4 separate regions of the Homo sapiens genome follow, and all the other regions are linked to region 4. The links come from fine-mapping of genetic effects on gene expression. A gene starts in region 4. Each other region holds a variant in brackets. All regions are shown on one strand. Distances are from middle to middle.

What was found. PIP is the estimated chance that this variant, and not a neighbour inherited with it, causes the effect.
Region 1: its variant is fine-mapped to the expression of CKAP2 in skeletal muscle (GTEx, PIP 0.93).
Region 2: its variant is fine-mapped to the expression of CKAP2 in prefrontal cortex (GTEx, PIP 0.95).
Region 3: its variant is fine-mapped to the expression of CKAP2 in whole blood (TOPMed, PIP above 0.99).

Annotation. Positions count from the first base shown.
Region 1 is chr13:52,568,491-52,576,597 of GRCh38, forward strand. All of the region lies in intron 2 of LINC00345 (long intergenic non-protein coding RNA 345), which reads right to left. It also overlaps the pseudogene TPTE2P3. Among named protein-coding and RNA genes, the nearest start is that of LINC00345, 28 kb to the right of the region's middle. RefSeq lists an enhancer at 1,404-1,698 and a silencer at 1,628-1,687. The variant G/A (reference allele first, on the strand shown) is at 4,486.
Region 2 is chr13:52,737,307-52,745,413 of GRCh38, forward strand. It overlaps CNMD (chondromodulin), which reads right to left and starts at 2,514. Exons shown (of 7, transcript NM_007015.3): 1 at 2,324-2,514; 2 at 1,725-1,865. The coding sequence starts at 2,395. RefSeq lists an enhancer at 84-585. The variant G/A (reference allele first, on the strand shown) is at 3,723.
Region 3 is chr13:52,556,510-52,564,607 of GRCh38, forward strand. All of the region lies in intron 2 of LINC00345 (long intergenic non-protein coding RNA 345), which reads right to left. It also overlaps the pseudogene TPTE2P3. Among named protein-coding and RNA genes, the nearest start is that of LINC00345, 40 kb to the right of the region's middle. The variant G/T (reference allele first, on the strand shown) is at 3,614.
Region 4 is chr13:52,451,986-52,460,092 of GRCh38, forward strand. It overlaps CKAP2 (cytoskeleton associated protein 2), which reads left to right and starts at 3,493. Exons shown (of 9, transcript NM_018204.5): 1 at 3,493-3,641; 2 at 4,538-4,622. The coding sequence starts at 3,572. It overlaps CKAP2-DT (CKAP2 divergent transcript), which reads right to left and starts at 3,361. Exons shown (of 1, transcript NR_185890.1): 1 at 2,790-3,361. RefSeq lists enhancers at 2,644-2,823, 3,114-3,193.

The sequences.
Region 1 (8,107 bases), 120 kb after region 4:
TGAACCCCTTATCATTATGTAATGCCCTTCTTTGTCCTTTTTTACTATTGCTGGTTTAAAGCCTGTTTTATCTGTTTTAGGAATAGTGATCCCTGCTCTTTTTGGTGTTTTGTTTGTGTGAGAGATCTTTCTCCAACCCTTTACGTTGAACCTGTTGGTGTTGTTACATGTGAGATGGTGTCTTGAAGACAGCAGACAGATGGGTTTTGTTTTTTTATCCAACTTGCCACTCTGTGACTTTTACGTGGTGTGTTTAGACTATTTACATTCAAGGTTAATATTGACGTGAGCTTTTCACCCTATCATGACATTGTTAGGTGGTTGCTTTATACTTTCTGTTGTATTGTTGTTTTATAGGCTCTGTGAGCTGTGTACTTAAGTGTGCTTTTATGGTAGCAGGTATCATTCTTTTATTTCCATGTTTAGAACTCCCTTAGGGATCTCTTGTAAGACTGGTCTAGTTTTAATGAATTCTCATGGCACTTGCTTCTCTGGAAAAAAAGATCTTTATTTGTCCTTCGCTCATGAAGCTTAGTTTGGCAGGATGCTCTTGATTAGAATTTATTTTCTTTAAGAATTCTGAAAATACACCTTCCCAATCTCTCCTGATTTTTAAGGTTTCTGCTGAGACGTCTGCTGTTATCCTGATAGGGCTCCTTTTGTATGTGATCTGGCCTTAGGATTTTTTCTTTAACGTTGACCTTGGACTGTTTGGTATATGCCTTGGTAATGTCCACTTTTTTATAGTATCTCGCAGGTGTTCTCTGGCTTTATTGTATCTAGATGTCTACCTTTCTAGCAAGATTCAGGAAATTTTCTTGAATGATTGCATCAAATATGTTTTCCAGGTTGTTTTCTTTTTTTCCTTGTCTCTAGGGAATGCCAGTAATTTGTAGGTTTGGTCACTTCACATAACCTATTTCTCAAAGACGTTCCTCACTTTTTAAAAATAGTTTTTCTTTATTTTTGTCTGACTGCATTAGTTCAAAAGACCAGTCTTCAGGCTCTGAAATTATGTCCTCTACTTGGTCCAGTTTATTGATAAATCTTTCCATTGTATTTTGAAATTCCTTAAGTGAGTTTTTTAATTCCGGAAGTTCTGATTGATTTCTTTTTAAGATGTTTATCTCTTCCTTCATTTGCTGAATTGATTTAGAAGTTTCCTTTTGTTGATTTCAACCTTGAATCTCATTGAGCTTCCCTGGAATCCATGCTTTGAATTCTTTATTGTCATTTCTGAGTTTTCATTTTGGTAGAAAGCATTGCCAGAGAGCTAGTGTGATCCTTTGGTGGTATCACTACATGCAGGTTTTTCATGGTGCCAGAATTCTTGTACTGGTTCTTCTCATCTGGAGATGCTAGCACTTCTAATTTTTGTAATTGTTTTTATGTGGGTAGGATTTTTTCTTTATCTTTTCTTTCCTATATCATTATTATTATTATTATTATTATTATTATTATTATTATTATTATTCTTTCCCTTTCCCTCCTCCTTAGGTGATGTGACTTTAGAGCAATGCTAGGTAGGTCTTTTGGCCTTGCTTCTATATGCACTTCTATCAGCAGGTTTTATATTGGGTATGTGGTTTGACCTACAAGCCAGTAGATGGCGGCGATGGGTAAGAGCTGGCTGTGGCCAGTGGTGCTGGCTATATACTTGCTGTTTGTTTATTGGGAAGAGCTCTCTGTTGCCTTAGGCAATGAGCTGATTCCTGGAGTACACATTAATCTGAGCTCCCTCCTAAACCCTAGGGGAACGGGAGTTAGGTGGGGGTGTGGGAGGAAGATGGGTGGAGCCAGATGGGGAAGGTTCCCCAGTGTTGTCCTGCTCTCAGTCCAGGTTTGGGAAAATGCCTGCAGCTTTTCCTTGTGTCCTTTCCTCACAAAGTCTCCAAGTCTCTCGTTAAATTAGCTCCAGGACTTGGGAGAAACAGTGCCCCTCCTCGGTCCGGGTTGCTTGGATCCCCAGTGGAAAGGTAAGACAGAGGGATGCTGTCTGCCTCTCTCACATACTGAGGCTTCACTCGCTTTTATCAGTCGAATGTTGTCACAAGAGCTGTTTGCCTGCGTTGTCCTCCCAAGGATCTGGGGTGTCCTTCATAATTCCAGGGAGTTGTCGTTTTCTTTCTTGAATTAAAGTTCACAGAGTTGATCTTTATGTACTATCTTGCTATTTCCAAATGGCTGAGGCATGCTAAAAGCCTGTAATCTGCCGTCTTGGAAAAAAATCCTTGCATTCTTAAGAGAAATGGCACTTGGTATTGATACGTGGTATTTCTACACTGCTGAATTCACTTTGAAAAAATATATATATTTTTATATCTACATTTATATGTCAGACTGGTATAAAGTAATCGTCTACTGTATTTATGCAGTTTTGGAACCAGCTATTTTAGTGTTACTAAATGAGTTGGGAATTTTTCTTTCTTACTGTTACCCAAAGGAATTTATATAAGACATGAATTATTGCTTTCGAATAGATTTAGTAAAAACCTCATCTTGTTCTTTCGTGGAGAGGTAGTTGAGAAATATTTTTACCGTAAATGTAATTTATTTTCCACCTGTGGGGCAGAGGTTGCAGTGAGCTGAGATCGTGCCAGTGCACTGCAGCCTGGGTGACACAGCGAGACTGTCCCAAAAAAAAAGAAAGAAAATCAACTTAAAATGAACTCCTGGAATATTTCTGAGTGTATTTTTATACCAAGCATGTTCCTTGAACTAATTTTTCTTTTCTTTTCTAGGAAGAACCGGAACTATGGTTTGTGCCTGCCTGATTGCCAGTGAAATATTTTTAACTGCAGAGGTATGAAAGATGTTACTACAAACTTTGTCTTAGGATGACTGAGTTTGCTAGTTCTGAAACATCACTGGTAGGATGTTAAGATGATTATTTTAGTCATGGTGCTTAGTGAAATTGTAATTGGAGAAGCGGTTGTTAAAAAGTCTGTTTTTGATACTTCCTTGTTTAACATGCACTGGTTAGTAGCTGGCTTAAGAATCTCTTTGGGCCAGGACTAGAGTGAGGTCAATGAGGCGCAGAATTTAAGAGAATGCTAAAAATTGCAATAATTAAAATAAATGATTTTTCATGCAATATTTAAAAAATAAAAATTAATGCAAAAAAACCATGAGGTATACAATATTAACATTTTAAATAATGACAAGACCTGATGGGGCAGGATTAAGGTGAGGGGAGTAAAGCCATGTTACACAGATACAAAAAACATTCAGTAATCGCAATGGTTCCCTCACCTCACCTGGCCCTGCTGTTCTTCCTTCCTCATGAGAATAGTATCAAGCTTAATTAGATAAATTCTCCAAAGGGCCTTGGCCATCCTCACACCTCTTAGGTAGATAAAAGGCAACATTTCACAACTCAAAGCCTCTCCTGCATGTAAATACCTCTGCTTAGTCAACACATGTGGAGTCTGTGGCCTCTAGAAATTTCTGATAAGACAAGGTGGGATGTTTCCACCTACAGCAGTGTTCTCAGTCATTTTTCTTTGCCATTTTCTTGCTGAGATGCTACCATTTCCAGCAGCTCCGCTTGAGTTGTTTGGCCTACAGTCTAGGGAAGAAGTGGTGGTTCTGCACAATGCCCAGCACTCTAATTCCACCACCTTTGGTTTTTCTAATTTGAGACACACAGATTTTGAAAATGGATGTTCTAGGATGGTGTTTTTCAAGCTATGGATCATGATGTATCAGTGAGTTGTAAAATAAAGTTACTGGGTTGTGACTAACATCTCTTAAAAATAAAATGGAATCGGCCAGGTGCGGTGGCTGATGCCTGTAATCCCAGCACTTCAGGAGGCTGAGGCGGATGGATCACCTGAGGTCAGGAGTTTGAGACCAGCCTGACCAACATGGAGAAACCCTGTCTCTACTAAAAATACAAAATTAGCTGGGCATTGTGGTGCATGCCTGTAATCCCAGCTACTTGAGAGGCTGAGGCAGAAGAATCGCTTGAACCCAGGAGGTGGAGGTTGTGGTGAGCTGAGACCGGGCCATAGCACTCCAGCCTGGGCAGTAAGAGTGAAACTCCGTCTCAAAAAAAAAAAACAAAAAAAAACTAAAGCTAAAACTAAATAAAATGGAATAGAGCAGAATAGAAAATCTGAAAAGGTTTAAGTATTGGTGTGTGTGTGTGTGTACTTCTCCGAGGTTTATTAATGTGGATTGCAACTTAAAAAATGAAAAGTTTGAAAGCCACTGATACAGAGCCCTAGACTGAAAACCAGAGACTTGTATTTCAGGCCTGTGCTGCTTCTAACTGGCTGCAGCATCTCCATGGCAGATTGTGTAGTTTTCTTTTGGTCTCAGTCTTCTCATTTGTAAGATGGAAAGAAGGGTTGGACCAGATGATTTCTAAGGTCTTTCCAGCTCTAAACTTTTATGTCTTTACGAAACCTTGAATGAGAGAAGTCTTTGATGTGACTTTGTTAATTTTGGTAATTTGGGTAGCCTTTGCCAAAAGACCACTGC[G/A]GCTAGGCGCGGTGGCTCATGCTTGTAATCTCAGCACTTTGGGAGGCTAAGGCAGGCGGATCTCTTGAGTCAGGAGTTCGAGACCAGCCTGGCCAACATGGCAAAGCCCCCATCTCTACTAAAAATACAAAAAATTAGCCAGGTGTGGTGGTACACGCCTGTAGTCTCAGCTACTCAGGATGCTGAGGCAAGATAATCGCTTGAACTCGCGAGGCAGAGGTTGCAGTGAGGTGAGATTCTGCCACTGCACTCCAGTGTGCGTGACAGAGCGAGACTCCATAAAAAAAAAAAAAATCACTGACTTTAGGAAAGAAGGTGGTTTTAGAAAGACTAAGGTACCTAATATAGAAAAGGAAAGAGTGCAGATGAACCATGGTTCCTTTTTTGTAGGAAAGATTGTACTATTTTGGAGAACGGCGAACAGATAAAACCAATGGCACTAAATATCAGGGAGTAGAAACTCCTTCTCAGGTAAGTTTTCGTTTTAAGAAAGGGAGCTTTTGTAGGGGAGTGGGTTAAGATTGCCATCTGTTATTTGGTTTCATTTTAGACTCTTCTCCTTTGGTGATCAGTCAGCAGCATTAGGGCACCCTGCGACAGGCCTTGGTCCCTCCCTGATGCTAAGGGTCATGCTTCAGGTGCCACCCACACGTTGGGGGGTCTGGCTTCTCCTCAGAGCATCCTGCTTTCTATTCTATACTGGTTATTGTTTACGGAGCTCAGGAGTTGATTATTTTCCCAAAGCAGGAAAGTCCAATACCTAAGGCTCCAGGACCCTGAAGTTTATCTAAAATCACCAGCCTTTGATTTCAATGTAAAAAAGATCTAAGTCTTTCACAGATCCTTATTAGGGCAATTCAACCCTTGCAGAACATCACAAAGACTGTTTTTGGGTGACTCCCGTGTGTGTGTGTGTGTGTGTGTGTGTGTGTGTGTGTGTGTGTGTGGTGGGGGAGGTGTATTTTAAAAGAGAAAGAAAAGGGGAAATAAACTTTTCAAAAACCCTTTTATATACCAGACAGTACTGCACTTTTACATATCTCATTGAAAACCCATAACACCTATATGAAACATATGCTGTTACTCTGTTTTTTCTTTTAAAAATAATTTCGTTATGGAAAACTTTAATCATATACAAAAGTCCAGAGAATCATACAATATATCTCCATGTAGTCATCACTTCGCTGCAACAATCATTTCAGCCTGCAACTGGCCACGTTTCATCCATACTTTTCCCACTCCACTCACACCCCCAACCCCACTCTCCACTCTTGCTTTCCCCAAACCTGGATTATTTGGAAGGAAATTTCAGTCATCAGATCATTTTATCCCACAAGTATTTTAGTATGACATCTAAGTACTCTTAAAACAACAACAAAAAACCCTTAATAACTTTTATCATATCTGAAATATTACACCTTAAAAATCCTTAATATCAAATTTCTAGTCCATGTTTGTTTCCAAAATTGTCTTAAAATCTTTGAAAATTTAGTTTGTTTCAGTCAGAATTCAAACAACATCCACACATTTCATTTGGTCGCTATGTCTCCTAAGTCTCTTTTAGTTCATAGATTTCTTGCCATTTTTTATTGCTTGTAATTTGTTTACTGCAGAAACCAGAATGTTTATCGTATAGCATTTACAACATTCTAGACTTTGCTGAACCATTCTAAGAGTTTTACATTCACTATCTCATTTAATATTCTCAGTAACTCTATGAGTAGGCACTACTATGATTCTCATCTTATAAATTAGAAAATTGAGGTTCAGAGAAATTAACTTTTGAACCAAGGACTGAAATCTAGATGTCAGACTCTGAAGCCCATGCTGTGCACAGCTTCTCATTTATATTGCCTTTTCTATATTGCCCCTCAAACCGAAGTGAGAGTGGGTTGGGAATTCTCAAATAGATTTGGATGTGGCTGTAAATGAGTTTTTCTTTAGGTGGTGGGAACTGAATAAGTACTCTTGGCCCTGTTATAAGAACACTAACTACTGTCCCCGTTTAGTTTGGGCAAAAGAACTCAGCCTTATCCACTGATACTTTTCTCCCACACCCAAGCCAAAAACAAAACCAGACAAAGAACAGTCATAGACCCTAAGCGAAAAGGAATGTGTGGATTTACTGAAGTGCAGCCCTACTCATGCCATTTCCATGCTCAAAATCCAGAGTATGTCCCCACTGCCAGTAGCAATAAACTAAATGTTTCAACCTGGCACTCAAGATCCACAGTTTGACTTTTCCAACCTTTTCTTCCACTATGTGCATGCACACATCCCACACTCTAACACATTTAGACTGTGTGCTGTTTCCCAGCCCATGGACACTTGATTCCCTCGTGCCATTTCTCATGCCCCTTTTCCTAGAGTCCCTTTCCCTTCCCAGCCTGAAGTAGTCTCTTGCTTTTTCAGTTCCTAAAGCCCTTTGTGTTTCTCTTAGGGATGATATCACTTTGCATTGTTCTCTAGCTATTTGAAGTGGTGACTTCTGTTTCCCCTTTAAAGGCAAGGCCCATGGCTTACCCATCTTTCCACCCTTTCCTCATAATATCTTCTTTGTTTGTAGTGAGTACCTCCTATGGGTTGGTTGTATGAATTTCTACTACCAGTCCATGTTGTTTTAAGTTGTAGTAGAAAGAAGCATGGGAGCAAAAGCAGCTTGAGGGCCCTGGCAGGTTACAGCCTTTAGGGGAAGGTGGAGAATCTGGTGGCAGGAGCCAAGGAGATGTTAGATAGAGCTCCTTCAGCAACTCACCCCACACGTCTCCCCATCCCCATCTCTTCTGTAGTCATGCATAGTTTCCCGAACTTTAGTCCAGAACTAGCACACCAAAGGCTGCAACTGAATCTCTTCTGATTGACTGAGAAGGCAACACAGGGTCTCAGCTGCACATTTGAGAGATGTGTTGGCAAGACCTCAGGACAGAGTGCCCTCTGTGTCTGGTGGTGATTCTCGGATACCATCACATTCTGATCCTGCATTGTGGGCCATTCTACTGACTACATCTACTCCTAAGTTAAGAACTTTCATGAGCCTTCCTCATGACTGGCCCTTTCTAAAGGAAAGTATGGCAGTTTGTTACTTCTATGAACATTTCTCAATGGGTAAGATAGAGTCCATGAACTTATGAGTACTTCTTCTTTTTTTTTTTTTTGGAGACAGAATCTGTCTGTCACCCAGACTGGAGTGCAGTGGTGCAGTCTCAGCTCACTGCAACCTCGACCTCCTGGGTTCAAGCAATTCTCCTGCCTCAGACTCCCAAGTAGCTGGGATTACAGGTGCCCACCACCACGCATGGCTAATTTTTGTAGCTTTAGTAGAGACGGGGTTTCACCCTGTTGGCCAGGCTGGTCTCGAACCCCTGACCTCAAGTGATCTGCCCACCTCGGCCTCCCAAAGTGCTGAGATTACAGGTGTGAGCCACCAGCGCAGCCAACTTTTGAGTTCTGAACCAGTTGATTCAGTACCAGAGCTCTTCAACTCCTTGAAGATAGATTCAAGGAGAGCCACTGTGAACAGCTTGCCCTAGGAAAAGGACAAGGCTAAGGGAATTCCGGGGCTTCCTTGTGAAAACAGAATTGGGGAAATGGAAAGTGAAGAAATCCTAGCTGTCAGGAACAA
Region 2 (8,107 bases), 290 kb after region 4:
GATCAGGGAGAAAAAAACTATCATGATTTTCTTCATTCTCCTGTCTGTATAGGATATAGCAATAATTTTGATTGTTGACAATAAAATGTGATTCACTATTCCTCTGAATTCTTAGCATTTAATACTGCTCTCCTGAACCAGACAACCAACCATCTTGCAGTAAAGTAAAATATATGAAAAAAGGGAGCTGTGCTTATTCAGTATGATTGTTTAATCTCTCTTTTTAGAAGCCTGTCAGTTAGTGATGTTTACCTTGAATAATTAAATGACAAATGGTATTCATTTTAAAATATATCATGTCCAGAATCTTTACCAAAAAAAAGCATAGCTATTGTTATCCCCCATTGACCTATACCATTGAGGCTTTGTTATTTAAAAGATAGCATTTACATTCTAAAACCACAGAATTTCCCAAAGAGATGACAATCTAAACCCTGCTATTAATGGAGATGTAGATATTGAAATCATTCTCTTATTCACATTTGCTGTTTCAAACATGAGCATCTGGCCCAGCTTCTATATTTAAAATACAAATACATTAAGGCACTTTTCAAATACCCACAAAATACAGTGCAATTCTGATCTTACAAATCGATGCTTGTAAATTTGATATAGTCTCTAAAACAGACTCGGTGCTAAATGGCATGCTTATCTACATTAGACATTTGAGTTAAAAATACAAATTATGCAGTGACTGCAGAAGACGTGATGTGTAAAATGGTTGAATTGCTTTCAGCACCATTTTCTGTAAGTACTGGAATTCGTTCATGCTTTGCATTTCATGGTAGGAGAGAGGAAAAAACAGCAATCACCAATCCTCTGAGGATAGTGATTATGAAAGAGCCCTTTGTGTGTGCCCTGGAGATGGAATTCTTTTCCATTAGTTGAAATAAGCTTATACCAGACCTGGCAGTGGTCATCAAGATAAAATGCCCCCTTTTACATAGGTGAACACTTTCAGAGTATTTAGAGAACACACTGGAGCTCTGCCCAGTCAACTTAGAAACAGTCTTTATACTCCTCGAGAGCCGTGGAGCTTTAAAATAAATAGTTGCATACAAAGAAAGTAGGACAGCAGTTAGTAAAACACCTACTATTAAACCACATGTGATGACTAGGCCAGAATTAATTGTTAAAGAGATTTTCCACCTTTAAGGAAGTTAGACGTTTTGTTTGTTTGTTTGTTTTTTGTTTTTGTTTTCCAGAGAGAGAAGGGAATGTTCATGGCTAGGTCACAAAAAAACCTTCTGAAAGGCAAAAATTCCTTCCCAATGGGTCTGAATATGGGTCTGAATATTCCTCCACTATCTTTGTCCTGGATTTTAAACCCACAGCCTTTCTTAGCAGGGACAGGCCTTAGAGATCGTCCAGTTCCATTTTTTCCCTTCAGGACGAGTACACTGAGGCCAAAAGGTGACGTGCCTTCCCCACGGTCGCGCCACTGCTTAGTGGGAGATGAGCCGAGAACGGCCTTTCTCGGACCGTCCACTACATTCTCCCCTACTCTACGCTTCAATCTTCTCCCGTGAAACCTTCACTTGCTTTTCTACAACGTTGACCTAAGGCGGAAAGCCGCGTGCCAGAGTGGGATGGGAGAGGGGAGCTCACGCTGGGCCCGAGGGGCCCGCCGGCAGCCGCGCGCCCCTCGCCGGCCCGCGCTCGGGCTCCCCCTAGGGGCACCATGGGCGACACGGGGGTCCCCGCGCGCCGCCCTCTGGACTTACGTGACTGTCGCTCCCCTTCCAGAAGTAGAAGGCCCCGATGGCCCCAAAGAGCAGCAGCACAGCTCCCGAAATGAGGACCACGGCTCCCACCTTGAGCAGCCGCGCGGGGCTGGAGGGCTTCACCGTCAGCGTAGCGTACGCCTGCGGGCCGGGGCGGGAGAGGGACCGTCGCGTTTGTGCCGCCAGCACCTGCGGCCCCCAGCGCACCCGGGCCCCACGCGGTAGCCCCCAGGGAGTGGGGAGTCGGGCGGGAAACAGCTCGCCCGGGCTCCTACGGGTGCCCCTTTCGCCGCGCTCCCTCCCGAGGGTCCTTTGCAGTCGGGCGTGGAAGTGGGATGAGCAAACCCCGCAGCACAGGGCCTTCGCCCCAGGACCTGCACCCTCTACCGGCCACGGGACGTCCCTCCGCACCCGCCTGTGGATGCCGTGACCCCTGCACACTCATACGCGTGGGGCGACATCCCACCCACACATTTGGGACCCAAATTTATCCCCCCGCCAACACACCCATTCGGTGGCACGCACCCCTGAGTCCGAACTGTGGAACCTGATACTCACACAACCCAGGCCCTGCGTGTGGAATCCCTGGCGGTACTCACCGGGGGGCTGCAGAATTCCACGTCATCAGGTCCCACCAGGGCAATGGGAACTTTGTCGGAGTTCTCTGTCATGTTTGCGGCGGGAGGAGTGAGGCACTTGGAGACTCCCTGGGCACCCTGGGATCTGTCCCGCTGCCCCGACGTGCAGGGCATTTCAACGCCGCGCGCACACACGGTGCACGGTCCCGCCTGGGCCAGCCCAGCGGTCCCCACCCCTTCCAGCGCCTCACCTCTCTCCTCCCTTCTCTCTCCCGCCGCGGGAAGCTCGTCCTGCACTCCCGGATGCCCCCTTTCCTCCTCACTCTATCCTGTCTACTGGCCCCCCAAACAGCATCCCGGTGACTCTGAATGTGTGGGGGTGGTTGCATCCCTCAGAGCGGGATGCTGAATCCTGGGACCCAAAGAAATACTCAAGTGCCAGAGCAATTAGCCATGCACCGGAGGATGTCTTAGAATGTCAGCGGGCTCTGCTGTGACAACTGGCTGGAGGCCATTTCCTGCAGGGTCTTTGTAGGTGTGTGTTGGGGTGGGGGTGGGGGGAAGATGGCTCATGGAAGGTGAAGGAGAAGACAACAGAGTGGTGCAGGTGGACAGGGGACACTGGCCTAAGAGTGTAAGGGTTAGGCCACCTTCTCACTGGCCTGGCATTGCTGGATGGCCCCTGGGACTGGAAAACAGAGCAGGGTCTTAGGGATGGCTCCTTGCCACCAGTTTTTCTAGGGTCTGGGTACAACTGCAGCAAAAGTGAGAGCTAAGCAGAGCAGGGCTGGAGGGAAGGAGTTGGGGAGACCAGAATAAAAGTGCATGCTGGTTGGTTGAATAAATTAAATAAGTGCAAACAAAAGCAACAATGGCAAAGCACACACACACACACACACACACACACAGAGTACTGATGTATCCAAAGGAATAACACAAATGTGTGTGTGTGTGTGTGTGTGTGTGTGTATGTATGTATGTATATAAAATTTTCACTTTTGGAAATGCCATCTTCCAGTTCCAGGATACATGGTACTTCATTTGGATCCAGGCTTCCTTAAATTGCGTTCGATTCTAGCTTTGTGCAGAGCTCTCTGGTGAGGTGTAAGTGAGGAGCACTAGTGCATGAGAGGGATTGAGGCTTCCCCAAAGGGCAGCGGGAGATTGCATGTGCAGGACTGCAGAAGGAGAAAGTGTTGAAGAATCATCCAAGACATGTGATGAAGAATGAGGTGACAAGCATGATGACCTGGGGCTGGGAAGGAGGGGAGAAGTGGAGGAGACCACTTTCACAGAAGAATCGATAGGACTTGGCAATTCCTGGGCTGTGGGAACTGAGTTTTCAGACCTAGGAGGATTGGGAGAGTGATAGGAACCCTAGGGAAGTGAAAAAATTGGAAGAAACAGTTTTAGACATGTT[G/A]AGCTTGATGTGGGGATGAAAAGTAAAAGAGCCAAGGAAATGTCCTGAGCCTGCATTGGAATCAGCTATGGAAACAGCTGTCTGCACATCACACTAGACTTAAGGTGCTTGGAAAAAACTCCAGCAAGATCTCCAGCCAGGGCTCATCCCTGGGGCACTGCTGAGGCAGAGTTCAAAGACCTCTTTTCACAAGGGCATTCTTCACAGGAATTTTGGTGAAGGAATAAGAGAAGTAACTGTCAGAGAGGTGGGAGATGGTACAATATAAAGTAGTACATGTAATTTTAAAGGCACATTCAAGAAGGGTGGGTCAGCAGTGTCAAATGCTGAAAAAAAATGAGCACAGAGAAAGGCCTTGGAAGGGCACAACCAAGAGGCCATGGGAACCAGCGAGAGAGTAGTTCCATTTGCTTCCCTGGGCACAGAAGACACATTGCAAAGGGTTACAGAGTGATTAAAAATATTTGCAACTTATACCACAGACAAGGAACTAGTTTTCTTATATAGTGTTTTCCTAGGAAAACCAAAAGACCAAAAATGTAGTAGAAAAAATGGCAAAGAATGGAAACAGAGAGTTGGTGAAGCAAGAAGTAGAAATTTCTCTTAAATGTAAGAAGAATGAACAACAGCATTATTTTGCCTTTTTTTTTTTTTTTTTTTTTTTTTTTTTGAGACAGAGTCTTGCTCTATCGCCCAGGCTGGAGTGCAGTGGTGCGATTTTGGCTCACTGCAACCTCCACCTCCCAGGTTCAAGTGGTTCTCCTGCCTCAGCCTCCCAAGTGGCTGGTATTACAGGCGCCAGCCACCATGCCTGACTAATTTTTCTATTTTTAATAGAGGCAGGGTTTCACCACGTTCGCCAGGCTGGTCTCGAACTCCTGACATCAAGTGATCCGCCCACCTTGACCTTCCAAAATGCTGGGATTACAGGCATGAGCCACCACGCCTGGCCACAACTGCATTCATACAAGGAAATGCAAATTAAAAGTAGACTGGTTCACCTATGAGACTGGAAAAACATAAAAACGCTTGTTAAAACAATCTGTTGAAAAATATGAGGGGCAGTGAATTTATGGACTACTGTAGTGGGTGAATTGGTACAACTTCTATGGAGAACAATTTAATTCCAAAATGCAAAATGCAGTTTCATTTCTATGGATTTATCCTACAGATGCACTCACAAGGGTGGAAAAATCCTGCAGGTGCAACGATGCTCACTGCAGCATGTTTGTTAGAACAAAGCACTAGTAATATACTCAATGTCCAGAGTAGACAATTTATGATCCATTCTCACCGTGGGGGTTTGGCAGCCCTTTAAAAGAATGAGGCAGCTTTGGATGTAGTGATGTAGATAGAACACTCTCTAAGATACTTCAAGTGAAAAAAGCAAAAGGTAGAAAATGCGTAGAAATGCTTCCATTTGTATAAAGAAATACAAACAAGAATAAATGTAAGTATATGCTTTCTGGAAAGATAAGATGCTGGTAGTGGGGGTTGCCTCTGAGGAAAATGTGAAGCTTGGGGAGACCAGTAGAAAGAAGATGCTTAACTGTGAACCTTCTGAAATGTTTTGAATTCTATATTGTGAACACGCATTAGCTATTCAGGAATTGAGTGAATAAAGCACTAAATAACAGTGAGTAGGTGGGGAGGAAGTGAATGCTACAAATGGAGACAATTCTTTTAACAACTTTCAACTTGAGGGGAAGAAGGATGAATGTAAGGAAGTTTTAGATGAGGGGAGTTAGAGGATCAAGGAAGGTACCACCTTCCCTTGATGAACCTTGAGAAGGAGAGAAGGACTGGAGGGAGTGAGTGGTGAGTGGATACTTTGGGGCCAAACAGACATTGAAGAGAGGGTGAGGAATCAGGGGAAATGCAAGACCTTGCCTCATTCATACATTTTTAACACATAATATACAGAAAGTAGCTGACCAGGGCGTGAGGGGTGAGGAGTGGGTATGGAGATCAGTTGCCTCCTCTGAGCACATTCTCCTAAAGTGGCATATTTTCAACAATTTTAAGGTAGTGTGTTCACATGATGATGGTTATAGATAATGAAAAGGCAGTAGAAAAAGCAGTAAGGGAGCAAGACTGGGAGGCTCATTGCTGTGGTTTGAATGTGTTTCTCAAAATTCATGTGCTGGAAACTGAATTCCCAATGCAAGTGTTGAGAGGTGGACCTTTAAGAGATGATTAGGTCATGAGGGTTCTGCCTTTGTGAAAGGATCAATGCCACTGTTGCAGGAGTGGGGTAGTTATCATGAGAGTGGGTTCCTGATAAAAGGATGAGTTTGGCTCCCTTTCCCTTTCTCACATGGGCATGTGTTCTCTCATTCTTCCACCTTCTGCCACAAAGGCCCTCACCAGGTACAGCACCTTACTCTTGGACTTCCCAGCCTCCAGAACCATAAGCCAAATAAGCTTGGTTTATAAATTAACCGGCCTGTGGTATTCTGTTTTAGCAGCACAAAATGAACTTAGACACTCGTGAAGAATGAAATCAAAGGGGTGCCCCCTTTCACAGGCTTGCTTTCTTCTACCCACTCTGCTGCTGGGCCCACCTGTAGGCCCATTCCCTGGAAGTTATAACCCAACTCTGCTCTCAGGCACTGTGCCAGGTCTGGGTACACAGTAATGAGCACATGAGACATGGCCCCTGCTCTTGATGAGCTTATAGAATAGTGGAAAACATGGTCATTAAGCAGGTAATCACAAAATATGATGTCATTGCATTTGTAACACACAGTATGAGGGAAAAACATAGGCTACACTAAGATCATATAACATCTAATTTACCCTGAGTGGGGAATGGGGAAAGCACCTGAAGAAGTGTCATTTAGGTTGAAAACCGAGAGAAGGGGAATTTTCCAGGTGGAGATGGGTGAAAGGGTGTGGGAAATGTGGAGGGACAGCATGTTAGAAGGCCATGAAATGGTAGAGTTTGGCATTGGAAAAAGGGAAAGCTAGATCTTAAAGAATAAAAGAAAGAATGGCCAGAGATGACACTACAGAGAGAGACAGTTACCTTGGCTAATAAAGTCTTCTAGGCTATGTTAAGAATTTTGAAAAATTTCCTCTCAGTATCAGGAAGTCATTGAGGGGTTTAAAGCAGTGGAATGGTGTGATCTGGTTTGCATTTTAAAAATATCATTTTGGCCACTGTGGGGCAGAATAATCAAACTGGAGTGGGCAAAGTAGAAGGGGTAGTTTTTTTTTTTTTAAATTTTTAATTTTTATTTTTTTGAGACAGAGTCTCTCTCTATTGCCTAGGCTGGAGTACAGTGGCATGATCTCGGCTCACTGTAACCTCTGCCTCTCGGGTTCAAGCAATTATCCTGCCTCAGCCTCCCGAGTAGCTGGGATTACAGGCGCCCGCCACCACACCCAGCTAATTTTTGTATTTTTAGTAGAGACAGGGTTTCACCATGTTGGCCATGCTGGTCTCAAACTCCTAACATCAGGTAATCTGCCCGCCTTTGCCTCCCAAAATGCTGGGATTACAGGAGTGAGCCACTGCGCCTGACCTTATTTTAATTTTTTAAAGCCAGGGTCTGGCTCTGTTGCCCAGGCTGGAGTGTAGAGACTCACTGTAACCTTGAACTCCTGAGCTCAAGTTTTCCTCCTGCCTCAGCTTCCTGAGTAGCTACAACTACAGGCATGCACCATGCCTGATTAATTAATATACACATGTATTTATTTTGTAAAGGCAGTGTCTCGTGACGTTGCCCAGACTAGTCTTGAACTGCTGGCCTCAATCGATCCTCCTCCCTTGGCCTTTCAAAGTGCTAGGATTACAGGCATGAGCCAATGAACCTGGCCCAGAGGCAGACTTTTTGGGAAGCTCTTGCAGTGGTCCAGGCAAGATATGATGTTGGTCTGAACTAGAATAATTGTAAGTGATATAGATGGGAAGAAATATTAATCCGAAGGAGTCCATTAGGATTTCAGATCCATGCTGGAGGTAGAATCAACACGCTCTGGAGACTGGCTGAGTGTGAGGTGAGTGAGGGAGGAAGTCAGGATGACCTCATGTATCAAGCACAAACAACTGAGTAGATGTAGAAAGCACCGGATGAGTTTTGGACATGTTAAGTTGAAGAGCTGTGAAAATTCAAGTGCAGATGTTGTACTTGATAGTGCCAGTAAATAAGCCGAGAAGACCATCTGCTGAGACAAAGAGGCTGGAGGAGCCAGCAGGGCTTAGGGAGTGTGGGAGAAGTTGATATCAGTTGTATGAGGAATACAAGAAAGAATTTATAAGAGCAGCGACCATTTGGGGCTGGAGAACATGAAGGAGCCAAGACTCCCCATCAGCACTGAACGAACAGAGCAGGTTAGAGGAACCTGGAAGATGTTGGGGGTATTGGATTTTTTTTTTTTTT
Region 3 (8,098 bases), 100 kb after region 4:
ACTATGATAAATAATGCTGCTTTTTTTTTTTTTTTTTTTAGACGGAGTCTCACTCTGTCACCCAGGCTGGAGTGCAGTGGTATGATCTCGCGCACTGCAACCTCTGCCTCCCAGGTTCAAGTGATTTTCATCCCTCAGCCTCTGGAGTAGCTGGGATTACAGGCGCCTGCCACCATGCCTGGCTGTTTTGTATTTTTAGTAGAGACAGGGTTTCACCATGTTGGCCAGGCTGGTCTCGAACTGCTGACCTCAAGTGATCTGCCTACCTCGGCCTCCCAAAGAGCTGATATTACAGGGTGAGCCACTGCGCCTGGCCCAATAATGCTGCTTTTAAAAATACACGTTTCTTGTTGCATATGTGGCCATATTTTTGTTGAGTATGTACCTCAGACTAAAATGGTTCTGTCTTAAGGTAATGAATCTTGAACTTTATACTTGATAATGTCACCTGTTTCTAAAACAGTTGTACCAATTTTCACTCCACTGGTATCGCACACTCGAAGCATTCCATATCTTCCCCAGTACTTGCAATTCTGAGTATTTTGATTTTTAGCCATTGGGTGTTTGTGTGATGGCATATTATGGTGGTGTTCATTTGCATTTCTATAATTACTAATAAGATTGAAGAAGTTTTCTTAAGATTATTAAGTATTTGGATATCCTTTTTTGTAAAGTAACTGTTAAGTTTTCTTACCCATTTTTCTCCTGGATTATTTGTCTTTTTTTCTCTTGATTTGCAGTTTTTTATATATTCTGATTTCCATTCTGTTATTGGTCATATATGTATTTCAAGAAAACTTTTCTGCTCTGTGATTTGCCTTTTCTCTCTCTTAGGAGTATCTTTTGGTTAACAGAAGTTCTTAGTTGTATTACCATCATAGGTATTATGCTTTCTCTTTATAAAGTTTGTGTTTTTGTGTCCTGATTAAGAAAATTTTCCTTGAGTTTAAAGACATTCTACTACTATATTTTCTTCTAGATGGTTCATTCATTTAAAAATTGATTTATAGGTGTGGTGTGAGGAAGAGGTTAAGTTTCATCTTTTTCCATATATGGCTATCCAATTATTCCAGCACACTGGTTGAGAAGATTTTTATTTCTTTACTTCCCTGCAGAACATGAGTCTGCTTCTGACCTTTCTATTCTGTTCATTGATTTTTCATCTGTGTGCCAATAGCACAACCATCTTACTGTAGCTTTCTAATAGTCCTTATTTCCAGTCAAGTGAGGACAATCATCTTTTTCTTCATAATTGTTTGTGTATTTTAGGCCGTCTACATTTCCATATAAATTTGGGAATCAAACAAAAGGCAGCAGAAACCTCTGCAGACTTAAATGTCCCTGTCTGACAGCTTTGAAGAGAGTAGTGGTTCTCCCAGCACGGAGTTTGAGATCTGAGAACGGACAGACTACCTCCTCAAGTGGGTCCCTGACCCCCGAGTAGCCTAACTGTGAGGCACCGCCCAGTAGGGGCAGACTGACACCTCACACGGCCGGGTACCCCTCTGAGACAAAGCTTCCAGCGGAATGATCAGGCAGCAACATTTGCTGCTCAGCAATATTTGTTGTTCTGCAGCCTCCGCTGCTGATACCCAGGCAAACAGGGTCCGGAGTGGACCTCCAGCAAACTCCAACAGACCTGCAGCTGAGGGTCCTGACTGTTAGAAGGAAAACTAACAAACAGAAAGGACATCCACACCAAAACCCCATCTGTACGTCACCATCATCAAAGACCAAAGGTAGATAAAACCACAAAGATGGGGAAAAAACAGCAGAAAAGCTGAAAATTCTAAAAATCAGAGCACCTCTCCCCCTCCAAAGGAACACAGCTCCTCGCCAGCAAAGGAACAAAGCTGGACGGAGAATGATTTCGAAGAATTGAGAGGAGAAGGCTTCAGACAATCAAACTTCTCCGAGCTAAAGGAGGAAGTTCAAACCCAATGCAGGGAAGCTAAAAACCTTGAAAGAAGATTAGACGAATGGCTGACTAGAGTAACCAGTGTAGAGAAGTTCATTCATCATACTGAATGGGCAAAAACTGGAAACATTCCCTTTGAAAACTGGCACAAGACAGGGATGCCCTCTCTCACCACTCCTATTCAACATAGTGTTGGAAGTTCTGGCCAGGGTGATCAGGCAGGAGAAAGAAATAAAGGGTATTCAATTAGGAAAAGAGGAAATCAAATTGTCCCTGTTTGCAGATGACTTGATTGTATATCTAGAAAACCCCATCATCTCAGCCCAAAATCTCCTTAAGCTGATAAGCAACTGCAGCAAAGTCTTGGGATACAAAATCAATGTGCAAAAATCACAAGCATTCTTATACACCAATAACAGACAAACAGAGAGCCAAATCATAAGTGAACTCCCATTCACGATTGCTTCAAAGAGAATAAAATACCTAGGAATCCAACTGACAAGGGATGTGAAGGACCTCTTCAAGGAGAACTACAAACCACTGCTCAACGAAATAAAAGAGGTTACAAACAAATGGAAGAACATTCCATGCTCATGGGTAGGAAGAATCAATATTGTGAAAATGGGCATACTGCCCAAGGTAATTTATAGATTCAATGCCATCCCCATCAAGCTACCAATGACTTTCTTCACAAAATTGGAAGAAACTACTTTAAAGTTCATATGGAACCAAAAAAGGGCCCGCATTGCCAAGTCAATCCTAAGCCAAAAGAAGAAAGCTGGAGGCATCACGCTACCTGACTTCAAACTATACTACGAGGCTACAGTAACCAAAACAGCATGGTACTGGTACCAAAACAGAGATATAGACATATAGAGATATGGAACAGAACAGAGCCCTCAGAAATAATACCACACATCTACAACCATCTGATTTTGACAAACCTGACAAAAACAAGAAATGGGGAAAGGATTCCCTATTTAAAAAATGGTGCTGGGAAATGGTGCTGGGAAAACTGGCTAGCCGTATGTAGAAAGCTGAAACTGGATCCCTTCCTTACACCTTATACAAAAATTAATTCAAGATGGATCAAAGACTTAAATGTTAGACCTAAAACCATAAAAACCCTAGAAGAAAACCTAGGCAATACCATTCAGGACATAGGCATGGGCAAGGACTTCATGTCTAAAACACCAAAAGCAATGGTAACAGAAGCCAAAATTGACAAATGGGATCTAATTAAACTAAAGAGCTTCTGCACAGCAAAAGAAACTACCATCAGAGTGAAGAGGCAACCTACAGAATGGGAGAAAATTTTTGCAATCTACTCATCTGACAAAGGGCTAATATCCAGAATCTACAAAGATCTCAATCAAATTTACAAGAAAAAAACAAACAACCCCATCAAAAAGTGGGTGAAGGATATGAACAGACACTTCTCAAAAGAAGACATTTATACATCCAACAGACACATGAAAAAATGCTCATCATCACTGGTCATCAGAGAAATACAAATCAAAACCACAATAAGATACCATCTCACACCAGTTAGAATGGCGATCATTAAAAAGTCAGGAAACAACAGGTGCTGGAGAGGATGTGGAGAAATAGGAACACTTTTACACTGTTGGTGGGACTGTAAACTAGTTCAACCATTGTGGAAGACAGTGTGGCGATTCCTCAAGGATCTAGAAC[G/T]AGAAATACCATTTGACCCAGCCATCCCATTACTGGGTATATACCCAAAGGATTATAAATCATGCTGTTATAAAGGCACATGCACACGCATGTTTATTGCAGCACTATTCACAATAGCAAAGACTTGGAACCAACCCAAATGTCCATCAATGACAGACTGGATTAAGAAAATGTGGCACATATACACCATGGAATACTATGCAGCTGTAAAAAAGGATGAGTTTGTGTCCTTTGTAAGGACATGGATGAAGCTGGAAACCATCATTCTCAGCAAACTATCGCAAGAACAAAAAACCAAACACCGCATGTTCTCATTCGTAGGTGGGAGTTGAACAGTGAGAACACTTGGACACAGGAAGGGGAACATCACACACCAGGGCCTGTTATGGGGTGGGGGGAGGGGGGAGGGAAAGCATTAGGAGATATACCTAATGTAAATGACGAGTTAATGGGTGCAGCACACCAACATGGCACATGTATACATATGTAACAAACCTGCACGTTGTGCACATGTACCCTAGAACTTAAAGTATAAAAAAAAAAAAAATTTGGGAGTCAGCTGGTCAAATACACACACCTGATAGAAATTTGTTTGGAATTGCGTTGAATCTATAGATTGGGGAGAATTGAATCTTTACAATATTGACCCATCCAACCCATGAAGAGAGATGTTCTCTCATTCAGTTAGGTTTCCTTCCATTTCTCTTTACAATGTTTTCTCATTTTCTGTGTAGAAAGCTTGCATATTTTTGATGAGATTTATTCCTAGATATTTGATATTTTGTGGTTATTTAAATGATATCCCTTTAAAATGTTTATTTTCTAAATGTTGTTGATTTAAATGCAGTTCATTTTATTCATTAATCTTGTATTTAGCAACTTGACTAAACTCACTTTTTGTTTGTTTGTTTGTTTGTGTGTTTTGAGATAGGGTTTCATTCTGTCACCCAGGCGGGAGTGCAGTGATGCGATCATGGCTCACTGCAGCTTCAACCTCCCTGGGCTCAGGGAATCCCTCCCACATCAGCCTCCCGAGTAGCTAGGACTGCAGGCAGGTGCCACCATGCCCAGCTAATTTTTTTATTTTTTTGTAGAAACGGGGTTTTGCCATGTTGCCCAGATTGGTCTCAAACTCCTGGGCTCAAGTGATCTGCCAGCCTCAGCCTCTGCCTCCTAAAATGCTAGGATTACAGGCCTGAGCCATTGTGCCCAGCCTAAACTCACTTATTAGTTCTACTAAATTATCTATAGATTCTTTTGGATTTTATAGTACACAGTTATATCATGTGAAAATAATACATTGTATTTTTTCCTTTTCAGTCATTTTCCCCCCTAGCACTGGCTAGAACCTTCAGTACAGTGTTGAATTAGAAGTGGCAACAGCAGCCATCAGTGTACACTTCTATTCTCAAAGGAAAAGCTTTCAGTGTCTCTCCAATTGCTTTACGAGCATGTGTGTGTGTGTGTGTGTGTGTGTGTGTGTGTGTGAGCTACCATTTATCAGATGAAGAAATTCCTTAGCCAGGCGCCATGGCTTTCGCCTGTAATCCCAGCACTTTGCGGGGCCCAGTGGGGCACATCATTTCAGACCAGCCTGGGCAACATGATGAAACCCCATCTCTACTAAAAAATAAAAAATTAACCAGGTGTGGTGGTGCATGCCTGTAATACCATCTACTCTAGAGGCTGAGGCACGAGAATTGCTTGAACTCAGGATGCAGAGATTGCAGTGAGCCAATATCACACCACTGCTCTCCAGCCTAGGTGACAGAGCGAGACATTGGCTCAACAAAAAAAAAAAGAAAGAAAAAGAAAAGAAAAAACAATGTCTTTAGTTTGCTGAGAGAGTTTTTTTTTTAATCATGAATGGATGTTGAATTTTTCCAGATTTTTCTGAATCTTTGAGATGATAATTTTTCCCCTTTATCTTATAAATAAATGTGGCTAATTACATGATTGATTAAGTGGTAAACCAACATATTTCTGGAATAAATGTGATTGAGTTGTGCTATACTATTTTATTAAATAATTATTAAACTTTTTTTTATTAAATTCCTGGGTTCTATTTGTTAATATTTGTTTAGGATTTTCAAATTCATGTCACCAGTGTGATTGGTTGTAATTTTCCTTTCTCATAGTTTTTTCAAATCTTGGCTTCATAAAATGAGTTAGATTTTATTTTCTCTTTTTTTATTCCCTCGATGAATTTATGCGTGCTGTTTTTTTTTTTCTTTTTAAGTGTACGGTGAAATTCACCAGTGAAGCTACATTTGTCTAGAGTTTTCTCTGGGGAGAAGTTTTTAAATTATCGCTCAGTTTCGTATATAGAATTCTCTCTAATTTTATTTCCTTAGCCTGTTTTGGTAGGTTATTGTTTTCCCAGCATTTGTCCATTTAATCTAAGTTTGCGAATGTCTTGGCATCAAATTATTCACAATATCATTTTACCATTTTAATGTCTACAGGGGCATTCCCTTTTTATTCCTTACATTATTTTCTTGGTGCCTTCTCCCTTTGTTTCTTTTGATTAGTCTCACCAGGGAATTATCAATTTTACTAGTCTTTTAAAAGTAACAAATGTGGCTGAGCGCGGTGGCTCATGCCTGTAATCCCAGCACTTTGGGAGGCCAAGGCGGGCGGATCACGAGGTCAGGACATCTAGACCATCCTGGCTAACACGGTGAAACCCCGTCTCTACTAAAAACACAAAAAATTAGCCGGGTGCGGTGGCGGGCGCCTGTAGTCCCAGCTACTCGGGAGGCTGAGGCAGGAGAATGGCATGAACCCGGGAGGCAGAGCTTGCAGTGAGCTGAGATCGCGTCACTGCATTCCAGCCTGGGTTACAGAGCGAGAGTCCATCTCAAAAATAAATAAATAAATAAATAAATAAAATAACAAATTTTTGGCCTTACTAATGGACTCTATTATTTACTTTTTATTTCATGAATTAGTATTATATTTAGTATTTTCTTTTGTATTCCATGGGTTAATTTGTTCTTTTCCTGACTTCTTGAGATGAATAATTCTTAGAGTGTCGACCACTCTGTTTTCTGTTTAGCATTTAAGGCTATACATTTTCTTCTAAGAGTTGCTTTAGCTTCGTCCCACAAGTTTTCATATGTAATATTTTCATTTTATTGGGTTCAAATTATTTTCCAATTTTCACTGTGCTTGGTGTTTTTTTTTTTTTTTGACCCGTGAGTTGTATAGAAGTATACTTCCTTATTTCCAAACATAGGAGACTTTTGCATTTATCTTTAAGTTTTTTATTTGTGAAGCCAGGCGCAGTGGTTCACGCCTGTAATCCCAGCAATTTGGCAGGCCGAGGAGGTGGTTTACCTGAGGTCAGGAGTTCGAGACCAGCCTGACCAACATGGAGAAACCTCGTCTCTACTAAAAGTACAAAAATTAGCCAGGTGTGGTGGCACATGCCTGTAATCACAGCTACTTGGGAGGCTGAGGCAGGAGAATCGCTTGAACCCGGGAGGCGGAGGTTGTAGTGAGCCAAGAACACACCATTGTACTCCAGCCTGGGCAACAAGAGCGAAACTCCATCTGAAAAAAAAAAAAAAGTTTTTTATTTCTGGTTGTATTGTGCTGTGGACACAGAACATACTATTTTTTTTTTCTTCCAAATTTGTGTAGACTTGGTTTATGGCCTAGAATTTGGTTGATATTGTTAAATGTTTTCTGTACACTTGAAAAAAACACGTATTATGCATTGTTGAGAACAATGTTCTATGTACGTGCATTTGTTAATTTATTTAACTCTTCTATATTCTTACTGACTTGTGTTTTGGTTTGATTGAATTTTGATAATTTTTTCCTTCTCACTCTCTCCCATTGCCTTGGAAGTTATATACTCCTTTTCTATTTTTTTAGTAATTACTGTAAAGATTTCAACCTGAATCCTTGATTTAGCTATTAATTTTTGTTTATGTTGAGCCTGCATCTAGAGATCTTCCTAAACTCTCTCAACTCTCTCGTTAGATTAATGAGTTATTCTATAGATTTACTGACTACACGGACTTACTACACTGGCTAGGCTCTGCAGTACATTGTTAAATGGAAGCAGTGAACAGAGGGCATTTTTGCTTAATTCCAGGCTTTAAAGAAAATGCTATCAATATTACATCATTAATATGATGTTCCTGGTAGGTGTTTTGGTAGATTCCCTTTGTTGAGTTAAAGAAGTGTCCTAGTTTTTATTAATTTTTAAAGTCACAGTTGTAGGTTGAATTTTAGTTAATGCTTTCTCTGCATTAATTGACATAATTGCAAGGTATGTCTACTTTAATCTGTGAATATGATAAATTACATTAATATAGATTTCTGATATAGGATGATTCTTTTTTGTTTGTTTGTTTGAGACGGAGTCTCGCCCTGTCGCCCAGGCTGGAGTGCAGTGGCGTGATCTCGGCTCACTGCAAGCTCCGCCTCCCGGGTTCACGCCATTCTCCTGCCTCAGCCTCCCGAGTAGCTGGG
Region 4 (8,107 bases):
TCTTTAGGATTATTTTCTTACAGTGTCTTCCTAAAATAGAATGACTGCTTTAAAGGTTGTGAACACATTTTAGAGAGCCTACCACTTATTGGGGTCTTAACTAAGGCTGCGTGCCCACGTGGGCAGAGGGGCACAGGGGCAGAGGGACAGAGGGCAGGCTTGCTCTCTGCCCCCAGGGCTCCACATTTCCCCCAGTCGTGGAGTCAGTGGTCTGTGGCTAGGCATTAAAAGAAAGGAAAGGCTCTTTCCAATGAGTATAAGCCATCTCTCCCCCGAAATGAATTGCTACTTTTACCGTGTTCCAAAATCCTGTGTGTATTTTGGTCTATTTCTAAACAGTGTCTTCTGTATTTCATATCTTTCAATTTCCATCATGACCATATACCCAATAACCAAAAGTTCTTTGAAAACATTTGATTTGCTGTAATATGCTATCAATATATATCACAATTTACCATCATTGCCTGATTTTTGAGCATTTGATTGTTTACCAACTTTTTAGTCTTTTTTAATTGAAAGTAATGTGACCTAAGCATCCTAATCAGATGTGGAACTGTGCAGTTATGCCTGGGCTTTGCAATTATCAACATGTTAGGCAGTGAGGACATTTGCAAGGTATGTTTTCTGCCCTTGAGGGATGTACAGTCTGTAGGACACAAATAGAAGCCTGGCATATGATAGCTGCTGGGATAGACAACCGTATAAGGGTTTCCTGTATCCAGGCTGGAGCAAGGAGAAACGTCATGTGGCTTATATATGGCAATAAATGAATAGACAAAAGGTTTTAATTTTTATGAAGTTCAGTGTATTTTTTTCTTTCATAGTTCATGGAATTTGCCTATTTAAGAAATCTTTTTTCCACAAACCAGATATTGATACTGATTATGAAATCTTTGCCTAACACAAAGTCACTAAGATTTTCTCCTATAATTTCTTCTAGAAGCTTCATAGTTTTGGTTCTTACATTTAGGTCTATGCTTTTTTTTTTTGAGACAGAGTCTCACTCTGCCGCCCAGGCTGGAGTGCAATGGCACAATCTCGGCTCACTGCAACCACTGACTCCTGGGTTCAAGCGATTCTCCTGCCTCAGCCTCCCGAGTAGCTGGGATTACAGGTGCCTGCCACCACGCCTGGCTAACTTTTGTATATTTTGTAGAGACAGGGTTTCACCATGTTGGCAAAGCTGGTCTTGAACTCCTGACCTCAGGTGATCCACCCGCCTTGGCCTCCCAAAGTGCTGGGATTACGGGCATGAGCCACCACGCCCAGCCATCCCCAGGATGTTTTTGCCAGGACCTCCCACCTTCTGAATCAGATGGTTCCTTTCAGTCCCAATCCTACTGGACCTCTGTAGTGCCCAACACTGTGGTCCATTACCTCTTTCTTCAGCTTCTCTCTTCCCCAGACTTTGTGACCCCATTGTGTCCCCATTGTCCTCCTAACTTTCAGATTGTCCTTCCCTGTTCTCTCACAGGCACTTTACCTTCTTCACATGACCACAGGAGGAACGACTAACACTAATTAATCATCAGTACTCCAGGTGCCTGCAGTTTCATGGTCAGCTGTGTTGGCAAAGAACTGTTCTGAAAGGAAATCTTTTTTGTTTTGTTTTTTTTGTTTGTTTTTTGGATCTTTTAGAAAAAGGTCTGCTTTCTCTGCAATAATTGTGTAGCAGTAATATTAAAAAGTGTCTCAAAAATAGACATATCATTGGAGTGGGTGAGTCTGGAGATTAGAGGAGAATTGCCATTTTGAAAAACCTAGCAGTTTGGCAGGTTTTCCTATTCATCTCAGCCTACTGAGATCTCCATGGTATCCTTTGAGTCAATTTCTTTTTTTACCATGCCCACTTATAAAAAATTATTGAGGTTCACATAACATAAAATTAATCATTTTAAAGTGAACAACTCAATGGCATTAATACATTTACAATGTCACCCAACCACTACCTCTAATTCCAAAACATTTCACTTACTTCAAGGTAATGAAACCCTTGTCCATTAAACTGTCTCCCAATTCTCCCCCTACCCTCAGCCTCTGGCAACTACTATTCTGAGTTATTTCACTATGGATGTATCTATTTTAGATCTTTCATATAAATGGAATCATACCATATGTAACTTTTCATATATTACTTCTTTTACTTAGCATAATGTTTTGGAGGTTTTTGAGTCACTTATTAACGCTGTATTTTGTTCTCACTTAATAGAAATCCCTGGTTGCCCCACCTGTCTGATGAAACTTTAGTAAATAATCAACAATAATGACAGACGTATTTAAACAGCAAGTTATATCTTAAGGATGGTGATGGACAATGTTAAACTAAAACTGGGACATTTCATCAAGTAAAAAACTACACAAAATCTCAAACCAAATTCCTCATTAGCAAGACGCTACCATAAGATGTCTGAAGAAAAAAGCAGGCAGAAGTGGGAAAAACTGACCACAGCCGAGGGCCAGCTGTGGAGGCCCTCAGACCTGGGAAGGGTAAACGGGGAAATCACATCCTCCCGTCTGTGTGCCCGGAGCACCTAAAACCTGGCTGAAAGAGTCCAGTCCAGCCTTACTGCAGTGATCAGGCAAGAAATGTAAACCCAGTGCTTGAAACCAGGCAGGTGCAGTCCAGACTCGCCCTCACTTCCCCACTGCCACTCTTAAAACCTTCTAGCCCTGACTTGTTTCGTTCTGTCATGTGGATTGAGTGTTTGTGTGGGTTTTATGAAGGTGGTATTTTTAGATGAGAAAAACGAAGATTATGGCGGCACACTTAACCACACAAACACAAAACGTCTGTAACAAATGCTATTTTATCTTCAAAGGAGAATTATATATAACCTTGAGGAGGGGATGAGGTTTATCTTCATTTTTTTCTGTTTCTCCTCCTCTCCTCCCTTTTTTGCATTTGATAATTGCTTAGAATAAAGGTATGGAAAGTAGATCCCAATTTCAGTTCCCCTTCACACGCTGTGCAAACGTGGACAAACAACCTCTGAACCTGTCACCTCTCAGTGGAAAAAGTGGTGATAACGTCCCACCTCAGAATTGATGCTCAAAATGAAGCAGTATTTGTGAAACGAAAATACACACGCTCGTGGTACGCCAGATCGGTGTTTACGTCCTCGTCAGTGAACGCGTCGATGTTTAATAAGAAGGGCAGCCAATCAACACTTTTCTTGTCTTTTTCTCGTCTGCCTTCCTCCAAGGACTGTGAGGGTCTCAAGATGTGTCCCATCTCGGTTGTTTGTCAACCTAGTCCTGCTATGTCGTGGGGACTGAGCAGGCCGACTCCTCCCCCATCGCACGTCCAGGATGAAGAGCGCTGTTTAGGTTTGAAACCTGCAGACTCAGTCCCAACCGAACTGGGCAGACACCAGACCGGCCCCGGCAACTGCAGTCCAGGCTCCGCCTCCCTACGCCCATTGGCTTATTCAATTCACGCAGGAACCAATGGGCGGAGACGGCAGCCGCGCCGTCTGACGGCTTAGCCGCGGTGCAGACTGCGGCGGCGGTGGTCTGAGGAAGTTCTATCTTGGCGCTAAAGCGGAGACGCATCCCCCGACCCGAGGCTACGATGAGCACACCGGCCGTGCCCCAGGACCTGCAGCTGCCCCCGAGTCAGAGGGCGCAGTCCGCATTCAAAGGTGAAGGCCGCGGTGGCGGTGGCGGTGGCGGTGGCGGTGGCGGTGGCGGGCGCGGGCCCGGCGGTCGGGGCTCGGGGCCGCGCTGGCGCGCTTCACCTCTCCCCCGCTCTGTGAGATCCCTGAACGCGGCGTCGGCCTCGCCCTGCCTCATTCTTGGCCTTGTGGAACGGATCATAAAAACAGGAACCGCTGCGTGGTGTTACTGTGCGGTCGCTGCTGGCTGGGATGGGCCCTCCTAAGAAGGAATCCGTTAGGCGAGGGGAAACGCGCGGGCCTCAGGCCGGGGTCGGTGTCGGAGACCCTGGGTCCGCTTGGGGGCGGGGCTGCACAGGTTCAGGGACCGACTGCGCCTGCGCTGGGTCCTCCGCCTCTTAGGTCCCTAGCGAATTTCTGCAGGGCTGGGGTCGCATCATGTGTTATTTCCAATTTCACAGCTTCTCCTTCGACTTTATGGAAACCGAGGGTTGGTTGGGTCTTCAAAACTAATATTGTTATTCCCTTATTCTACACACGGGAAAGCAGAAGAAAGTAATTCTCATCTAACCCAGTTCTGGTAAATTAGAACTTTCGAGTCTAGTGCCTCACTTCTACCATTTAGTTTCTTAAAGCTTGGCTAGCAGGAGCTGTATGTAGAAAATGATGTTCTCCAGATTTTTCACAGGGAGTAGAGAATGTGATTCTTATGCAGAGGGGTTTTGGGGACCTGTTGTGGTAACAGTCTCTTCTAAGGTGATTTCTCAAAGGCAATATTGAATTGGAGAATTTTCTGTTATATAGATGTGACCTCAGGTGGAACCAGCTTTGGAAGTAAACTCTTCATTTAGTCAACAAGATTTATTTGCCGTTATCGATGTTTTAACTAATATTGACTTGTAGCTCTTACCTTTGTTATCTAGAGCAAAGAAGACAAAAACTCAAGGAACATCTGTTGAGAAGAAAAACGCTTTTTGCATACAAGCAGGAAAATGAGATGTTATCCAGGTAAGGTCAAGTTTATTTCTTTTCACTTCTGTAAAATTGTATCAGATCTGTCCAATGAAAATGTAAAGTAAGCCATATCTGTAATTTTAAATTTTCTAGTAGCCACATTTAGAAAAACTGCTTACATATTATTTTACGTCTTTTTGTGGTACAACGTCTTTAAAATCTGGTGTCTATTTTACAGTTACAGGACATTTCCATTTGGTCTATCCACATTTCAAGCACTCAGTAGCCACATTGGCTAGTGGCTACTTTATTGGATGGTGCAGCATTAGATCATCGTTTTATTAATTTTTTTTTTTTTGAGACAGAGTCTCACTCTGTTGCCAGGTTGGAGTGCAGTAGCGTGATCTTGGCTCACTGCAGCCTCCACCTTCTGGGTTCAAGTGAATCTCCTGCCTCAGCTTCCCAAATACCTGGGACTGACTACAGGCAAGTGCCACCATTCCCTGCTAATTTTTGTATTTTAAACAGAGACCGGGTTTCACTATGTTGGCCGGGCTGGTCTTGGACTCCTGACCTTGAGATCCGCCCACCTCAGCCTCTGAAAGTGCTGTGATTACAAGGATGAGCCACCGCGCCCGGCCTAGATTATCGTTTTCTACGTAAATTAATTCACAGTCTAAGAGAAAAAAACAATTATAAAGCAAAGTATGTGCATAGACTAGATTATCAACTTACTGTTTACACCACACAAAGGTCAGTCTTTCTATTATTTAGCAAAGCTTTTTACTCAGTGTATGGGGGAGTTCATCAGGGAAGGGTTGGGTGGCCCTCCCAAATGCTTAGAGATTACTAGTTGTAGTCTCAACCCTCCACAGAAATATCTTTATTATTTTGTTAAAATATCTTAGATAGTACATAGCTGTAGCAAAAACAAAAACCCATGAAAGTAGATGAAGCAGAAAGGCAAAAGGTCCCCTCACTCTCTAGGGATAACCAGTAATAACATCCTTACAGGCTTAGGCTGGGTGCTGTGGCTTACACCTGTAATCCCAGCACTTTAGGAGGCTGAGGTGGGCAGATCACGAGGTCAGGAGATCAAGACCAGCCTGGCTAACACAGTGAAACCCCGTCTCTACTAAAAATACAAAAAATTAGCCAGGCATGGTGGTGGGTGCTTGTAATCCCAGCTACTGGGGAGGCTGAGGCAGGAGAATCGCTTGAACCTGGGAGATGGAGGTTGCAGTGAGCCGAGATCGTGCCATTGCACTCCAGCCTGGGTGACAGAGCGAGACTCCGTCTCAAAAAAAAAAAAAATTGTCTCAGGTAAACAAAATTGTATATACCACCCACACACATATTCAGAGAGTGGAAATGATAACGCAAATGGGATAAAAATTTTAACAATAGGTGGATCCTGGGTAAAGAGTGTACAGATATTCTTTGACCTGTTTATATTTTTGCAACTTTGTGTAAGTTTGGCATTCTAAAATTTTAAAAATAATTTCTAACTTTATATTAATAAGTTGCTTTAGTTTGGAATAAACAGTTTATCCTTCACAAATAAATCTTTTATTTCTTTGTTTAAGACAAAAAGGTGATCCTAGGTTTTTTATTTGAATAAGTAAATGAATGGTGATAACCGTATACTGAAATAGGAAGCCTGAAGGAGGAGCTGGGGAATTAGGAGTTCTGTTTTGACTATGTTTGAGGTACCAACCAGACATCCAAGCAGATATGCCAAATAATTGTGTGTCTGAAGTTCAGGGGAGGGGTTGGGGCTGGAAGCATAAACTCAGGAATTGATTAGTATACAGATGATATTTACTTAAAAACCTTAGGATGGAATGAAATTACTAGGGAATAAGTAGAGATAATATGGATTCAGACAGTGACTCTCAACCACTTATTTAAATAAAGAATCCAACAAGGTCAGGGGTTTATAATACTCTTAATAGGAAGAAAAGAAAATTCTAAAACGCTTCATGTGGCTTAAGTACTACATTTATTCCTTTCAGAAAACAGATGTTGGCTGGGTGCAGTGGCTCATGCCTGTAATCCCAGCACTTTGGGAGGCTGAGGCGGGTGTATCACTTGAGGTCAAGAGTTCTAGACCAGCCTGGCCAACATGGTGAAACCCCGTCTCTACTAAAAATATAAAAATTAGCCGGGTGTGGTGTCAGGCGCCTGTAATTCCGGGGAGGGCCGAGGCAGAAGAATCGCTTGAACCTGGGAGGCGGAGGTTGCAGTGAGCCAAGATCAGGCCATCGCACTCCAGCCTGGGTGACAAGAGCGAGACTTTGTCTCAAAAAAAAAAAAAAGGAAAACAGATGTCAATTTAAATGTTATCACCTCAGCAGTGAATCATTAAATAAGACAACCAACCTGTGTTGCAGCTTTTCAGAATTAAACAGTTATATTTTACAATCTCTAAAGTATAGATATCCTAAGACTCATTTCCGATAACCCTTCTGAGGGCAGTTTTATAATAAGACAGAATAGGATTAAGTCTCCCCACTGGACAGGTGAGTAAGATGGGTTCTTCTTGTCATCCTGAGTTTTGTTTTGTTAGCTGGCAGTTAGCTACTAAGATACCCTGTTAAGTGGCACATTTTGATCTTCCTTCACCATTGTTCAAAATGTATAGTACAGGTTGTGTCAAAGTTCTGTTCCTTCTCCAAGCTGACAGAACAAATAGATATGAAAGGCAATGTAAGCAAAATTATTAACTACTAAATTATGTCAAATGTAAAATATATATATATATATTTTGTTTTGTTTTGTTTTTTTGAGACGGAGCCTTGCTCTGTCGCCTAGGCTATAGTGCAGTGGCGCGATCTCAGCTCACTGCAACCTCTGCCTCGTGGGTTCAAGCGATTCTCCTGCCTCAGCCTCCAGGGTAGCTGGGATTACAAGCATTTGCCACCATGCCTGGCCAATATTTTTGATTTTAGTAGAGACAGGGTTTCGCCGTGTTGGCCAGGCTGGTCTCAAACTCCTGACCTGAGGTGATCTGCCCACCTTCTCTACCCAGAGTGCTAGGATTACAGGTGTGACCCACTGTTCCTGGCCTCATTTTTTTTTTCAGAGAATGAGAGATCACGCATTTTAATGTGATCTCTGAACTTAGGATCTGTCTTAAAATCAATGGCATGTCTAATTGACCGTATTTTTTCCTATCGTTATAGTACACAAAATTGTTAAAATCACTTGCTAAGAGATGCTCACAGTCTGCCTTAGCCAGTTTATAGCTGTAAAAATAAGTTAAGTCAGTTTCTTGAGGAGGGATTTTCTTTGCAATACCGCCTAGAAACTAACGTTCTTTTTTTTGAGAGATGATCTCATTCTGTGTCACTCAGCCTCTAGTGCAGTGACGGGATCTTGGCCCACTGCCTCAACTCCCAGGCTCAAGCAGTCCTCCACCCCAGCCTCCCAAGTAGCTGGGACTATGGCACCCACCACCACACCCAACTAATTTTTTATTTTTTTGTAGAGATGGGGTTTTGCCGTGTTGCCCAGGCTGCTCTCGAACTCCTGAGCTC